Regions from separate parts of the Homo sapiens genome. Here region 2 is linked to region 1. Evidence: fine-mapped expression QTL. Tissue or cell type: whole blood. Region 1 holds a variant in brackets; the other region holds the start of a gene. All regions are shown on one strand. Distances are between the middles of the regions. Region 1 overlaps FBXO11 (F-box protein 11). Region 2 holds the start of MSH6 (mutS homolog 6).

Evidence for each region.
Region 2: MSH6 starts here. The variant in region 1 is fine-mapped to the expression of MSH6 in whole blood (INTERVAL, PIP 0.90).

What each region holds. Positions count from the first base shown.
Region 1 is chr2:47,841,598-47,849,933 of GRCh38, reverse strand. All of the region lies in intron 1 of FBXO11 (F-box protein 11), which reads left to right. Among named protein-coding and RNA genes, the nearest start is that of FBXO11, 61 kb to the left of the region's middle. The variant G/A (reference allele first, on the strand shown) is at 3,956.
Region 2 is chr2:47,778,808-47,787,143 of GRCh38, reverse strand. MSH6 (mutS homolog 6) reads right to left here and starts at 3,999. Exons shown (of 10, transcript NM_000179.3): 1 at 3,651-3,999. The coding sequence starts at 3,910. RefSeq lists silencers at 3,217-3,306, 3,507-3,666, 3,947-4,426, 5,577-5,758 and an enhancer at 4,557-4,626.

The DNA of each region.
Region 1 (8,336 bases):
GTGACCATATTTTGTTTTTAAGATAAGGTCTAAATTATTTTAAGTGTTTGTAATAGCCTTTATAATTTGGCCTCTGCTACATAGTATAGCCATACATATGGAGCAGCTGGCAGTTCCTTGATACCTGTGCTGGAGATGAGCACCTTCAGGTCTTCACACACACTATTCCTTCTGCATAACTGACTCTCAGTTGTCATCCATTTCTTAGCTTGGACTTTCTTCAGAAAATCTTACACCAATACCCACATCATCTAAGATTGGATTAGATGTTCTTAAATATTCCCTCAATACTTTCTGCTTAACCTTATCAGCATGTGACACACTGCATTATTACTGCCTGTTTAGTTGTCTGTCTCTTAGGCTCTTGAAGAGCAAATACAATATTCTGTTTGATTGACCTGTGTCACCAATACCTAGCACAGTCCATGGCAAGATTTGGCTTTTGAAGATTGTTACTAAGTAACGAAAATGCACATTTTTTAAGTCATTTTAAGTATAATGATCCTGTGGTGGCAAAAATTCAGTGTAAGAACGTATGTGTGTTAATAACTGAATACATTAATGGAAGTATTATGTAACAGTATCCTAAATAAATAATTTTAAAATGTAACTATAAAATCAGAAACATTTGCTTACAGCAAGTCAAGCTTTTAAAAAGTTTTTTTAATTATAACTTTACTTTTGGGATCTCTATTATAAAATATTTAAATTTTAAGTAAACCATGTAACTTTATAAGTATTTAAATTTTATCTTGATTTCCATTTGTGAATTTTTTTAGCAGTTAGAGAAAAGCTGTGGTAGTTTCCAACTGTGTTAGAAACAGTTGTCAAGTGTGGTTCCTTTACGCCATGAGACTGGGAGCTGTTTCTAAACACAAAGTTGTTAGTCGCACAGATTTGCCTAAGTTTCCAATCTGATCTGTGACTATGGGTAAGTAAATTGGAATTTGTGTATTTGTGGGGAAAAAAACTTCTGTCAATTAAATTCCATAAACTACTCTTAACTTTATAACCTAAAATGTGTAGACTTTAAACCCCAGCCAATCAATAGTATAATTTTTTGCAAACTTTCAAGGTAAAGGGTATATAAAAAGGTATTCTGCTAGGCTCAGAATAAATAGAGTCAAGACAGTTAGGAATCTTATTTGAATCCTAAAATAAATTTTCAGTGCTACATTTATTATCAAAGATGTCAGAGATTATTTTTTAATTAAAGAAACATGTTTATTTTCCAGAAGACTTTACTTATTTCTGTGGTTCCTATTAATAGTGAAGATTGTAGTGTATTTATAGCATAGGATTTGTAGTAAAATCTAGAAATTATAAAATAAATTTTGATATTATATATGTGTGTGCAAATAGCATACTTTTAAATTGCGTATTAACTTTTTATCCTTTAAGACAGTGGTCCCCAACCTTTTTTGGCACCAATGACTGGTTTTATGGAAGACAGTTTTTCCACGGACTCAGAGGGGTGGGTGGTTTCAGGATGAAACTGTTCACCTCAGATCATCAGACATGCACCACATAATTAGATTCTCATAAGAAGTGCACAACCTAGATCCCTCGCATGTGCAGTTCACAATAGGGTTCACACTCCTATGAGAATCTAATGCTGTGGCTGATCTGACAGGAGGCGGAGCTCAGGCAGTATTGCTTGGTCGCCTACCACTCACCTCCTGGGTGGCCCAGTTCCTAACTGGCCCCGGGGTTGGGGATCTCTGCTTTAAGAGAACTGATAAAGGTTTAGTGAAAGATATATATGTGTGTGTGTGTTTGGTTGTTTTTTTGTTTGTTTGTTTGTTTTTTTGAGATGGGGTCTCGCTCTGTCGCCCAGGCTGGAGTGCAGTGGTGCGATCTCAGCTCACTGCAAGCTCCACCTCCCGGGTTCACAGCATTCTCCTGCCTCAGCCTCCCGAGTAGCTGGGACTACAAGCACCCGTCACCACGCCCGGCTAATTTTTTGTATTTTTAGTAGAGATGGGGTTTCACCGTGTTAGCCAGGATGGTCTCAATCTCCTGACCTCATGATCCACCCGCCTCAGCCTCCCAAAGTGCTGGGATTACAGGCATGAGCACTGTGCCTGGCCATATGTGTGTGTTTTTATATACACACACAGTCTGTCTAACACAGTCACGCACCACATAACAATGTTTTCATCAACAACAGACTGTATATGATGGTGGTCCCAAAAAATTATGATACCATATTTTGTTTATTTGTTCGTTTGAGACAGAGTCTCGCTCTGTCACCCAGGCTGGAGTGCAGTGGGTGTGATCTTGGCTTACTGCAACCTCCTGGGTTCAAGCGGTTCTCCTGCCTTAGCCTCCTGAGTAGCTGGGACTACAGGCGTATGCCACCATGCCTTGCTAATTTTTGTATTTTTGGTAGAGACAGAGTTTCACCATGTTGACCAGGCTGGTCCCAAACTCCAGACCTCAAATGATCCTCCCGTCTTGGCCTCCCAAAGTGCTGGGATTACAGGCGTGAGCCACCACACCCAGCCATGATACTATATTTTTACTGTACCTTTTTACTTTCTTTAGATAGGCAGTTATTTACCATTGTGTTACAATTGTCTACAGTGTTCAGTACAGTACAGTAACATGCTGCACAGGCTTACAGCCTAGGAACAGTAGGCTATACCATTATAGCCTAAGTGCTTAATTTCTTTTTGTTTGTTTGTTTGAGACAGAGTCTCACTCTGTCACTCAGGCTGGAGTGCAGTTGCACAATGTCGGCTCACTGCAGTCTACACCTTTCAGGTTCAAGCAATTCTCCTGGCTCAGCCTCCTGAGTAGCTGGGATTACAGGTGTCCACCACCACACCTGGCTGATTTCTTTTATTTTTAGTAGAGATAGGGTTTCACCATGTTGGCCAGGCTGGTCTTGAACTCCTGGCCTCAGATGAAGTGCCTCCTTGGCCTCCTAAAGTGCAGGGATTACAGATGTGAGCCACCACGACCAGCCTTCTCAGAACGTATTCTTGTCTTTAAGTGATAAGTGACTGTATGTGTCTGCATTGTCCAATTAAGGGTAGCCACTAGCTGCATGTGGCTTTTGAGCACTTGAAATATGCCTAGTCTGAATAGAGGCATGCTGTGTTACACATACGTACTATTTTCAAAGATTTAGTATGAAAAAAATGTAAATTATCTCAGTAATAATTTTATATTTACATATTGAAATGATATATTTCAGATTTAATATGTTAAGTATATTAAAATTTCACTGTTTTATTTTTTAATGCAGCTAAATTACATATGTGGATTGCGTTCTATTTCTGGTGGACATTTCTGGTCTAGAACATTTTTTCTAACTAAATTTTTCTGTGAATTATAGTTAAAATTGAACATTTTTGGTAGAGGGTTATTTTTAAGTCTTTGATTACAACTTGACAATCATTGGCATAATATTCTATTAGATATAAAAATGAAAACCATAAAATTAAAAAAAAATTTTTTTTTGAAACAGTTTCGTTTTTGTTGCCCAGGCTGGAGTGCAATGGCATGATCTCCGCTCATCGCAGCCGCCTTCTTCCAGGTTCAAGCAATTCTCCTGCCTCATCCTCCTGAGTAGCTGGGATTACAGGCATGCGCCACCAAACCTGGCTAATTTTGTATTTTTAGTAGAGACGGAGTTTCTCCATGTTGGCCAGGCTGGTCTAGAACTCCCAACCTCAGATGATCTGCCCGCCTGGGCCTCCTAAAGTGCTGGGATTTACAGGCATGAGCCACCACGCCTGGCCAAAATTATTTTAAGGTCTTGCTTTTAGACTTGTTGGCACAAAACCATAACTAATCCATGATTTCGTGTTTCTTGGGTTGGAGCCAGTTTGCCGCATCTATCATGGATCGTTGGCTTTATTCATTTTTATTTAATGTAACAAATATTTTTTGTTTCATGTATGCTAAGTCTGTTTTGGGGGAATACTTCTCCATAATTTCAGGAGGG[G/A]ACAAAAAATAATGGATCTACATGTAAATGCATTTGTGGATTTGGATGTTGGAAGGAAGTTAAGGCAGTTCTTGTTTGGTTTTTTTTTTTCCTGTAAAGTAGGAGATAAGCCACCACTAGTGATGGCTTCTACGAAGAACTCCCTGAATTGAGTAAAATTAAAGGGTTCTCCATTGATGGGAATCAGTATTTATTGAGTACTGATTGGGCACCAAGCTAAACACTGAAGAATATAAAAGAGGGCACCCTTGTTACCCTGCCTCGCCCTCAGAGCTTATAATTTTGTTAGGGAAATATGGCATATAATAAAAAAAGTAAGTATAACATAAGGCAGCTAAGGTATAGTAAGGTATATACGGTATATATTCAGTACTACAGGAGTTCAAAAGATGAAGCGAACCCAAATGACTAGAGATTTCTTTTAAGCTTTCTGTTTTGCTGCTTATCACAGTAGTAGCCAACTTATCTTCCCAGAATGATCCCTTTTTAAGTAACTTCTGGCACTGTACTTGATTCTCAGAACAGTCAGTAGTAATTTAATATGAGAACTATGTAGAAATTAGCACATATTCTTCAGCGCAGAGTTCAAAACAGTGATTTTATAACTCATGAGCACTTCAGGACAGTGTTTACAAGTGGGAAGTTGAGATTTCTGTGGTATTCATGACTTAAATCATGTAGCTTCTTGAATTTATTTGCTGTACATTTTAGGATGCAAATGAATTAATTAGCACCTTCTCTTTCCTGTTAGGACCTCTGAATTCCTTACTTTTCAGTCTTTACTATTTGCTGTGTCTTTGGTGAGAAGCAAAGGATTCCAGGGTGGGGTGGGTGGGTGTCTGTAGTAATAAGGTCCACAGATTTTAAGAAGGTGAAGGTGAGGAAAGGAGGAGGGAGTTGTATAGGATGAAAAGTTTGAGAATGTACTTTTGAGTGTTGTAGAATTGGACTGACTACTGAAGGAAATGGCAAACAAGCTGATAGAGACATTAACCCACATGCATGCATACTACAAACATATCAAAATGAAATATGTAATAAGGGCTGGGCACAGTGGCTCATGCCTGTAATCCCAGCACTTTGGGAGGCCAAGTTAGGCGGATCACTTGAGCTCAGGAGTTTGAGACCCATCCTTGGCAACATGGCAAAACCATGTCTCTACAGAAATACAAAAATTAGCCAGGCATGGTGGCGTGCACACCTGTAAACTGAGGTGGGAGAATTGCTTGAGCCAGGGAAACGGAGGTTGCAGTGAGTCGAGATCCCACCACTGCACTCCAGCCGGGTGACAGAGTGAGACCCTGTCTCAAAAACAAAACGAACAAAAGAAATACGCATTAAGAACAAAACTATAAACATATAACTAAACTTTTAAGGAAGGAAAGAAGAGGAGGAAAATTCATAGGTATCAGAAATCAGAGAAATAAAATCAGAACAGTAAGCGGGAGCTAGTGTTGCTGTATATAGCACAGGGGGCTTTTGGTCCTGCATATGTTCTAAGGGGTCTGGGGTTGAATTTTATTGCACATATGGGGATAGGATATATGGCCTTGGGCCTTTTCAAAATATATCTGAAACAAAGACCCAGGCATGTGGCCTAGAGCCTGAAATAACTTCCCTAATTACGCATAGAGATTAGAAAAAGTGCCCACTAGTCAAATGCTCACTCAAGAACAAAGTCAATGACAGAACAATCTAAGAGAGAATATAAAATGTGAGTGAAATGATTGAAGGGATAAAAGAAGGAAATGAAGCAATGAGGTAATAGATCAGTGTGAAAAAGAAACAGTAAAACTTGGAAAAAATTAACTTTTAGAAATTAAAAATATAATCATGGAAATTGGCAGTAGATGGGTTAAATTACAGATTAGACAGATACTCTTGCCTTGGCTGAAAAGCAAAAGTCTAGCAATAAATGGTTAAGAATAAGCAAATCTAGGCCAGGCACAGTGGCTCATGCCTGTAATCCCAGCACTTTGGGAGGCTGAGGCAGGCAGATACCTTGAGGTCAGGAGTTCGAGACCATCCTGGCCAACATAGTGAAACCCCGTCTCTATTAAAAATACAAAAATTAGCCGGGCGTAGTGGCGCGTGCCTGTAATCCCAGCTACTCGGAAGGCTGAGGTGGGAGAATAGCTTGAACCCAGGAGGCAGAGGTTGCAGTGAGCCGAGATCACGCCATTGCACTCCAACCTGGGCAACAGAGCAAGACTCATCTCAAAAAAGAAGAAGAAGAAGAAGAAGCAGCAGCAAATCTAAAATGTAATCCATAAAAGTAAGAAATTGAAAATAAAGGATTTAAAAAATACTAGACTGACACAAACCAAAACAGAAAGCTGATAGACCAAAAATAGATTTGTAAGGCAGAAAGCATTGTTAGTGATGAAGAAAGCCATTACATAATGAAGATGATGAAGAAAGCCATTAATTACATAATGAAGAATGGAATAATTCACCAGGAAGAAATAGTTATCTTGAATCTGTGTGTCCAAATAATATTGTCTCAAAGCACATAAAGCAAAAATTTGCAGGCAAAAAAAAAAAAAAGATTAACTACAAATATGGTGGGAGATTTCAGCACATTTCCTTCAGAAGCCAATGAATAAACCACCACCACCCTCAACAAAAGTGAAAAAATGTAAGCATAGAGACTATTTGAACAACACAATTAACAAGCTAGATCTTTTTAGACATGTTTAAACCCTACTCTAAAAATTAGTGTTGATGTTCCTTTCAAGCACACATAGGACGTTTACTGGTCATATTATTAATATACAAACATTTATAGAATTACACATATTAGACCTCAAAGGGAGAGAGTTCCACAAATGCCTAGGCGTATCATACTGGCTGCTTTTTGTGATTCCTGCAGTACATGGAAAATTTACAAGCTGGGCACATTGACTCACAGCTATAATAATCTCATCACTTTGGGAGGCCATGGCAGGAGGATCACTTGAGCTCAGCAGTTTTGAGACTAGCCTGCACAACATGGTGAGACCTTGTGTCTACAAAAAAAAGTTGTTTTTAATTAGCCAGGTGTGGTGGTTCACATCTGCAGTTCCAGCTGTTCGAGAGGCCAAGGTGGGAGGGCTGCTTGAGCCCAGGAGATACAGGCTGCAGTAAGCCATGATTGTGCCACTGTATTCCAGCCTGGGTGACAAAGTGAGACCCTGTATCTTTTTTTTTTTTTTTTTTTAAAGAAAAATTTACTTGTTTTTCCAAGTTTCATTTGAAAGTGATGTTAATCGAATAATATTTAAATGAAATAATAGTAATTGAAATACTTCTTGAACTCTGCATATGAGCCCAGGCATACTGTGTGTTTTACATATATTTAAGTTTTTAGCAGCTTTCAATTATAACATACTCTTATCTTTAATAGATGAGAAAATGTAGGCTTAAAAATGTTAATTTACACCCAAGGTTAGCTGACTGGAAATCTCTACTTTTAAATATTACACTTTTACAAACTCTCCCCCCTTTTTATACCTTTGTTATTATGAAATATAGCTAGGTAGAGAAACCTACATAAAACACAAATACACAGCTTGTTGAGTTATTATTAAGGTATTATCTTTGTAATACCAACAAGGCAAGAACTAGAACTTTGCCAGCTACTACTAAGCCTTTTATGTTTCCCATTCTAATTATATTCTCCTCCTGCCGGGCGCCGGTGGCTCACGCCTGTAATCCCAGCACTTTGGGAGGCCGAGGCGGGCAGATCACGAGGTCAAGAGATGAAGACCATCCTGGCCAACATTGTGAAACCCCGTCTCTATCAAAAATACAAAAATTAGCTGGCCATAGTGGCGTGCACCTGTAGTCCCAGCTACTCGGGAGGCTGAGGCCGGAGAATGGCTTGAACCCAGGAGACGGAGGTTGCAGTGAGCCGAGATCGCGCAACTGCACTCCAGCCTGGGCAACAGGGCGAGACTCTGTCTCAAAAAAAAAAAATAAAAATAAAACTGATATTCTCCTCCTTCCCCACTAAAAGCATTTGTATTATAATCATTTTCTAGCTTTTTAAAAAATAATTTGGCCGGGCACAGTGGCTCACGCCTGTAATCCCAGCCCTTTGGGAGGCCGAGGTGGGGGGATCACGAGGTCAGGAGTTAGAGACCATCCTGGCCAACATGGTGAAACCCCGTCTCTACCAAAATACAAAAAGTTAGCCAGGCATGGTGGTGTGTGCCTGTAGTCCCAGCTACTCAGGAGGCTGAGACAGGGGAATGGCGTGAACCCAGGAGGTGGAGGTTGCAGTGAGCTGAGATCACGCCACTGCACTCCAGCCTGGCGACACAGCGAGACTCCATCTCAAATAATAATAATAATAATAATTTGAATACCAAAGGGTACATTCTTAATGTGTTTTATAAAG
Region 2 (8,336 bases), 63 kb after region 1:
CTAATTTTCTTATTTTTTGGAGAGACAGGGTCTAGCCATGTTGGCCTGCCTTGGCCTCCCAAAGTGTTGGGTTTACAGGCATGAGCCACTGCACCCAGCCTCCCTGTGGATTTCTTAAATAAAACCTATAGAAACACTAACCACAGAGAAAATAAAAGGACAAATTCCACATTATAATCAATAATTTGTTCATCGAAAGATGCCATAAGGCTGGGTGTGGTGGCTCACACTTGTAATCCCAACAGGTTGGGAGGCTGAAGTGGGAGGATCGCTTGAGAGCAAGAGTTCAACACCAGCCTGGGCAACAAAGTGAGACCTCTATTATTCAACAACAACAACAAAGCCATAAACTAAATGAAAGAACTCATTGTGAAAGAAGACATTTATATCACACACAAATGACAAAGAACTAGGAAAAAAAAAAGAAACAGCAAAAGACAAACACTTCAGCACAAGAAGAAATCTAAATGACAAACATTAAAAGATGCTCGGACAGACACGGTGGCTCACGGCCAGGTGCGGTGGTTCACGCCTGTAATCCCAACACTTTGGGAGGCTGAGGTGGGTGGATCACCTGAGGTCAGGAGTTCACGACTGGCCTGACCAACATGGTGAAACCCGTCTCTACTATAAACACAAAAATTAGCTGGGCGTGGTGGCAGGCACCTGTAATACCAGGTACTTGAGAGGATGAGGCAGGAGAATCGCTGGAACCCAGGAGGCGGAGGTTGCAGTGAGCTGAGACCACACCACTGCACTCCAGCTTGGGCAACAAGAGTGAAATTCCGTCTCAAAAAAAAAAAAAATACGCTCAACATGTTTTAAGGCTTAAATGATTCATGGAGTAAGTCCGAATGTCTCTGTAGCTCATCAGACTGTTCATGATTGGATCTCTGCTTAACTTCTCCAATGCTCCCTCCTCCTCCTTTCATCCTACCCACAATTTGCAGACCTTCCTCTTCCTGAACCAGCTTCCCACTCTCACTATAATCTGTCTAAGCTTATTTGTCCTTCTGGTTTCGGTTTACAGAGCTGAGAGCCTAGCCTGACCCGCATCCTCTCCGTCCCCTTTCCACTTGGAGTCTACAATTGCCTCTTTGCTTTGTCCTGTTCATGGTTGTATCCAGGATCCATAATGCCTAATGCTGTGCTCGGCAGAGTGATCTAGACACTGCAGTTTCTTTAGAAACCTAGTATCAAATGCCCATCTTTCTTGAATACCCTGGAATCCTCTCCATAACGGGAGGTGAAATGTATACGTTTTATTTTTACAAGTCTCTTAAACTCAACCTCAAGAAACAAATAACATACGCTATTCAATATGAATGTAAAGTACATCCTTACAATAAATACACCCGTTTGGTTTGGATTCAACAATCAATTCATGCTCAAGTAAACAATACGTCATGCTTTTCTAACCAGGAGTTTGTTATTGCGGATGCTGGCTCTGTTCCCCACAAGCATATTCTACTAATGCACAACTATATATATTTAAACTGCGGGAAAGGGTCGCTTAAACAAGGGTAACACTATAATTACACTTAGAAAAATCTCAGAATTCCTTTAGGACACTTTAAACTGGATTTAAATGGATTTGAAATCCATTACTCAAAACCACTAACTAGCGGCCGGGCACGGTGGCTCACACCTGTAATCCCAGCACTTTGGGAGGCTGAAGTGGGTGGACCACTTGAGGTCAGCAGTTTCAAGACCAGCCTGGCCAACATGGTGAAACTCCATGGTGAAAAATCAGCCGGACCGCGGTGGGCACACCCGTAATCCCAGCTACTCGGGAAGCTGAGGCAGGAGAATCACTTGAACCCGGCGGGCAGAGGTTGCAGTGAGCCGAGAAAGCGCCACAGCACTCCAGCCTGGGCGACAGAGCGAGACTCCATTTCAAAACAAAACCAAACAAAAAACACGAACTGGCTCTTATCTTGAATGAGTTATTTTTTCTGAGCCTTTATTTCTTCGTTTGTTCAAATAGCGACCATTAAACTTTGTGTTTAGTATCTGACAAACGGCCGGGCTCGGTGGTTCATGCCTGTAATCCCAGCACTTTGGTAGGCCAATGCGGGCCGATCAAGAGGTCAGGAGTTCGATACCAGCCTGGCCAACATAGTGAAACCCGTCTCTACTAAAAATACAAAAATTAGCCAGGCGTGGTGGGGCGCACCTGTAGTCCCAGCTACTTGGGAGGCTGAGGCAGGATAATCTCTTGATCCAGAGACAGAGGTTGTGGTGAGCCAAGAACGCGCCACTGCACTCTAGCCTGGACAAAAGAGCAAGACTCTGTCTCAAAATACATATATATGTATCTGGCAAACAGCAAAAGCAAGCTTTTCAAAATGTCGCCAGCTGCCCGGATAAAAAGCCCTAAACAGACCGGGCGCGGTGGCTAGCGCCTGTAATCCCAGCACTTTGAGGCCGAGGCGGGTGGATCACCTGAGGTCGGGAATTCCGAGACTAGCCTGACCAACATGGAGAAACCCCGTCTCTACTAAAAATACAAAATTGGCGGGGTGTGGGGGCGCATTCCTGTAATCCCGACTACTCGGGAGGCTGAAGCTGGGGAATCGCTTGAAGCCGGGACGCGGAGATTGCGGTGAGCTGAGATCGCGCCATTGCACTCCAGCCTGGACTTGAGCGAAACTCTCTCTCAAAAAGGAAAAAAAAAAAAAAGCACTTAACTGCCCATAAAGTGAGGACAACTCCCGACAGGCTTCCCCGGAGTCACTCACGTCCACACATCTTTGTCCAGCGCCCGATTAAGGCCTCTAAAAGCCCAGTGGTGCCCCATAAAAATTACACTATTTCATAAAATAAAATATTTTCCACTCGACACGAATTTCCACATACGTCAAAATATTCTATCTTCGTCTCGGTGCACGTGCAGCCTACCTACCGAAGGACCCAGCCGGATCCCAGCACTTCGGCTCCCCACGGCCCCGCCCCGCCCAATTAGGCCCCGCGGTCCCCATGGTGACACACCCCCCCGCGCTCGCAGCTCGTGGCCCACCCCCTCGGCGGCCCCTCACCTAGGCCGAAGGCCCACCGTCCCCAAGGCGTCTCGGCGACCGCGGCTCTTAACTACCTCTAAGTGTCTACCTCGATCGACTACTGGAGCCCCAACTCACTATCTCCGCGCCGGCCGAGGAACCTCCTTTCGCACCCCACACCACCGGACTCTCCCCGTTCGGCCTCCCGCAGGCATTCCTCCTTCCCGCCACCCCGCCCCCCGCCCCGCCCACCAAGTGGGCCGGGCGCCTTCCCCTTCTCGCCCCACCCCCAGTGCTCCCACCTCCCAGGCCCCCTCCCCACCCGGAGCTGCGCGCGTCGCCCCTTCCTTAGCCCAGCACCCCCACCTGGCGGGACGCGTCTCCTCCCTCCAAAAGGCCCGAACTCTCCGCGTCTCCCCTGCAGCCCTCTTCCTGCACAGCCTCTCTCCTCCGACCCTGTTTACAAGCTACACCCCCAAATGCTCCAGACTCGACCCCTGCACTCATTCAAGCCAACTCTGCGGCCCCGCCTCCTCCGAGCCCAGGGCCAGGCCGTGCACCCCCCCAACCCCCTGTGCGAGCCTCCCCTCGCCGGGTTCCAAGCGCCCCGCCGCTATGCCCCCGCCTTCGACCCCACCCCCACCCCGCTACCTGGTGGGGGCAGCAGGCGCTACCGATCTCCGCAGCCCTCCGTTGAGGTTCTTCGCCTTGGGCGGTGACGCGGAGCGCGCCAAGGGCCTGGGCCCAGGCCCAGCCTCGCTCCAGGCCGCATCCCCGCCTGGGGAAGGAGAGGCCCCGGGGGCAGCGGCGGCACGGCCGCCTTCGCGTGAGGCCCTGGCCGAGGCCTTGTTGGCATCACTCAGCGCCGGAGACTTGGGGAAGAAGCTGTACAGGGTGCTCTGTCGCGACATACCGACAGCCGGCAAGGCCCAACCGTTCTGTCGGACGGAGCTCCTAAAAGCACCGCATCTACCGCGCGGCTCCTGCTGGCGGGAAATCTGGGGGGAGGCGCGCTCCGCCGGAGGAACCCGGGCCCCAGTGGCCAATCAACAGGCGCCTCGCCGTGCGCGGGCGGTGCGCGCCAGGCCCCGCCCCCGGGCGCGCGGCGACGTGGGGAAGGGCGGGGCTGGCACACTGGTGGGTAGGGGCGGGGCTGGCACGCTGGCGGTGAGGGGCCCGCCCTGCCGCCGACGCCTGGGCCCCGCGCGGGGAACTGCTGAGCTCCCCTTCCCTCACGCCGCGGGGCTGGCCGGGCCGGAACACTCCGACCCGGGGTTAGTTGCGGCCGCGGGGCTAGCAGGCTCGGAAAGCCCTGCCTCTCTGGAGCGGAAGCGGGAACAGCGGGGGCGCGCACCGCCCGGGCGGGGATAACCGGGGGGACCCGAAAGGCCTCGGAAAGGGGCTCGCGGGGAGAAACGCGTCCAGCGCTCGCGTGACCTCCTGCCGTTAGAGCATTTTCGCAAGGAGACGGAGCGAAAGGGACCAAACTTTAGTCAGCAGTTCACCTTCACGTTGTATTCTCAAGATTTGTATAGAGTAGGCACTTGGTAAACGCTAAATGAATATTGTAATAGCATTCGTTAGCGATGCTGTTGTGTATGGTGAAAGCCTGCAGCTGTACAAAGTTTTCCTTTGCCAGGCACTGATCCCAGCATTTTACATCTGGTAACTAAATCGATCCTCTCAATAACCTGTGACGTAAGTACTTAAGGGCCACAGTCCGTTATCTGAGCCCTTTGACCCAGGTGTGTCTTTACAGGATTTTTCAAATTTTAGAAAGCTAAGAGACTATGAGAGGCCGGGCGCAGTGGCTCACGCCTGTAATCCCAGCACTTTGGGATGCCGAGGCGGGCGGATCACCTGAGGTCAGGCGTTGAAGACCAGCCTAGTCAACATGGTGAAACCCCCGTCTCTACTAAAAATCCAAAAATTAGCCGGGCGTGGTGGCATGCGCCTGTAATCCCAGCTACTTGGGAGGCTGAGGCAGGAGAATAACTTGAACCTGGGAGGCAGCGTTTGCAGTGAGCCAAGGTCGCGCCACTGCACTCCAGCCTGGGCGACAAGAGCGAAACTCCGTCTCAAAAAAAAAAGAAAGAAAGCTAAGAGGCTATGAGAATAAAAAGGTTCTATTCAAATTCAAGAAAGATAGTGGAAGACAGACAATTGTTTGTCCCCTTATCCAGATTGTGAAATCCAGATTGCCGGAAACCAGTCACAATCAACAGCTGTACATTGGTAAAAACCTATGTAAAATTAGTTGTTTGCCTTGTTCTTGGAGACTGTTCTGCCAGAAGGTTCTCCTTTGCTAGGCAAGTAATAAAATCAATCTAAAAAAAAAAGGCGGGGGCCGGGCGCAGTGGCTCACGCCTGTAGTCCCAGCACTCGGCACTTCGGGGGGGGGGCGGAGGTGGGCGGATCACGAGGTCAGGAGATCGAGACCATCCTGGCTAACACAGTGAAACCCCGCCTCTACTAAAAATACAAAAAATTAGCCTGGCGTGGTAGCACACGCCTGTAGTCCCAGCTACTGGGGAGGCTGAGGTAGGAGAATGGTGTGAACCCGGGAGGCGGAGCTTGCAGTGAGCCGAGATCGCGCCTCTGCACTCCAGCCTGGGCGACAGAGCAAGACTCCCTCTCAAAAAAAAAAAAAGAATATTGCCAAAGGTGGTATGTGCTAAGAAAAATACAGTATGCTTCACGAATTTGCATTTCATCCCTGTGCAGGGGTCATTCCAATTTTGGTATATGTGCTACCCAAGCAAGCACAGTGAAACCAACTGTTTGAGATAATATTTGAGAGTTGGTCTCTTTCCCCCACCGGCATACGTAAACACCCCCAGAGAGTCTGGGGGAACATGCTGAAATCAAACATGCAGTAAAACTTACATGCTTATTCATACTAAGTAGAAAGAATACAGAATATAGACTATAAATAGCCTCAGGTCAAAATTTGCTACCAAATGAGTTTACCCCCAAACTTTTGGTTTACAGAGCTTTTTGGATTTCAGAATTGCACGTAAGAGGCTGGTTATCCTGTATCTCCATATCATGGATGAAGCTGAGGCACAGTTGGGTCAAGTAACTTGCCCATGACTGCATAGCTAGGAAGTGGTGGAGCCTGGATTTAAACTCAAGGAAGCTGGTTCTGGAGCCCTATGTTGTTAACAGAAATACTATAATACTTCCAATTTAACACCATTTTATCTCATTTAGTTATTACAACCACCTTATACTAGGTTGAACTATGTGAAATTGCCAAAATTTGCCCTTTTTAAAATTTTTTTGAGACAGGGTCTGGCTCTGTCACAGAGGCTGGAGTATAGTGGCGTGATCTTGGCTTACTGTAGCCTCAACCTCCCAGGCTTAAGTAATCCTCTCACCTCAGCCTCCTGAGTACCTGGGACCACAGGCCCGCAACACCATGCCCAGCTAATTTTTTTTTTTTTTAATTGAGGAGTCTTATTCTGTCACCCAGGCTGGAGTACAGTGACGCCATCTTGGTTCACTGCAACCCCTGCTTTGCGGGTTCAGGCAATTCTCATGCCTCAGCCTCCTGAGTGCTAGGATTACTGGTGCCTACCACCATGCCCAGCTAATTTTTGTTTTTTAGTAGAGACACGGTTTCACCATGTTGGCCTGCCTGATCCCAAACTCCTGACCACAAGTGACCCGCCTGCCTCAGCCTCCCAAAGTGCTGGGATTACAGGTATGAGCCACTGTGCCCGGTGCCCTGCTAGTATTTTAAAAATTTTCTGTAGAGACGAAGTTTCACTATGTTGCCCAAGCTGGACCTTTTTGGTTTTTTGGTTGTTTTGTTTTGAGACAGGGTCTTACTCTGTCTCCCAGACTGGTGTGCAGTAGTGCAGTCTCAGCTCACCACAACTTTCACCTCCCAAGCTCAAGCAATTCTCCTTCCTCAGCCTCCTGAATAGCTGGGATTACCGGCACGCGCTACTACTGCCCAGCTAATTTTTGTATTTTTAGTAGAGACAGGATTTCACCATGTTGGCCAGGCTGGTCTCAAACTCCTGACCTCAAATGATCCTCCTGCCTCGGCCTCCCAAAATGTTGGGATTACAGGCGGGAGCCACTGCGCCCAGCCAAGCTGGACCGTTTTTGAAGTACAAATATTAATATTTAATTCATTTTGGTTCAACTGAATATAACGTTATTCTCTTTTTGTTGTTGTTGTTTGTTTTTTTGGGGATGGAGTCTTGCTCTGTCACCGAGGCTGGAGTGCAATGGCACGATCTTGGCTCACCACAACCTCCGCCTCCCAGGTTAAGGCAATTCTCCTGCCTCAGTCTCCTGAGTAGCTGGGGTTACAGGCACCAACACACCCAGCTAAGTTTTGTATTTTTAGTAGAGATGGGGTTTCACCATGTTGGCCAGGCTGGTCTCAAACTCCTGACCTCGTGATCCGCCCATCTCTGCCTCCCAAAGTGCTGGGATTATAGATGTGAGCCACTGCGCCCGGCCGATGTTATTCTTTTACAGGGAGGAAATGGAGGTTCAGAGGGGATGCGCCAGTTGTAAGAGGTTAAGAGCCTGGGCTTTGGGTTAAATGGAGAACTGAGCTCTGATCCTAGCTAGCCAAGCAGATAACTCGGAGCAATTAATACTTTTCTGAACTTGTTTCCTCGTCTTTGATAAGGACAGTAGTACCTATGGGCCAAATTTTGGAGGCTACAGTTAGATGCCTCCCACAAACTTCATTAAAAGACAAGAGAACACATGTATTATGTGGGGACACTCAGACCCCCAGAATTGGCATGAATGTTACTTGGAACTGAAGACATTTGAGAGCCAACAGATGCAGAAAGATGCCGTTTCAAAGCTTCCCTTATGCGACTAACAGCAGAAATTTCTGGGAGTGAAGCTGCCGTAAATCTCCTCTCTAGGGGAGTTTTAGTGGCCAGAAAAAAAGACAAAGACCACTTGCACCTGCAAAAACAAACATTCTTATCTCCCTTTTGTTCCCCCAGAAACCTATTTGTTCTTCCCATGGAAGGCTTTTTCTCCCTCCTCTTCCCCTATTAAATGGTATATATAAAGTAGATTTCGAGATTCAAGAAAAAAAAAGTTGTATAAATGCCAAATAACAGCCTCCTGGACTCACTTTTTTTTTCTGTGAACTCCTGCATGCATATCTGAATAAAAGTCTGTCTTTTTTTTTTTTTTTTTCTGAGACAGGGTCTCACTCTGTTGCCCAGGCTGATCCTCCAGCCTCAGCCTCCCAAGCAGCTAAGACTGCAGGTGTGCGTCCTCACACCCTGATAATTTTATTTTCTGTAGAGACTGGGTCTTGCTATGTTGCCCAGGCCGGTCTCCAACTCT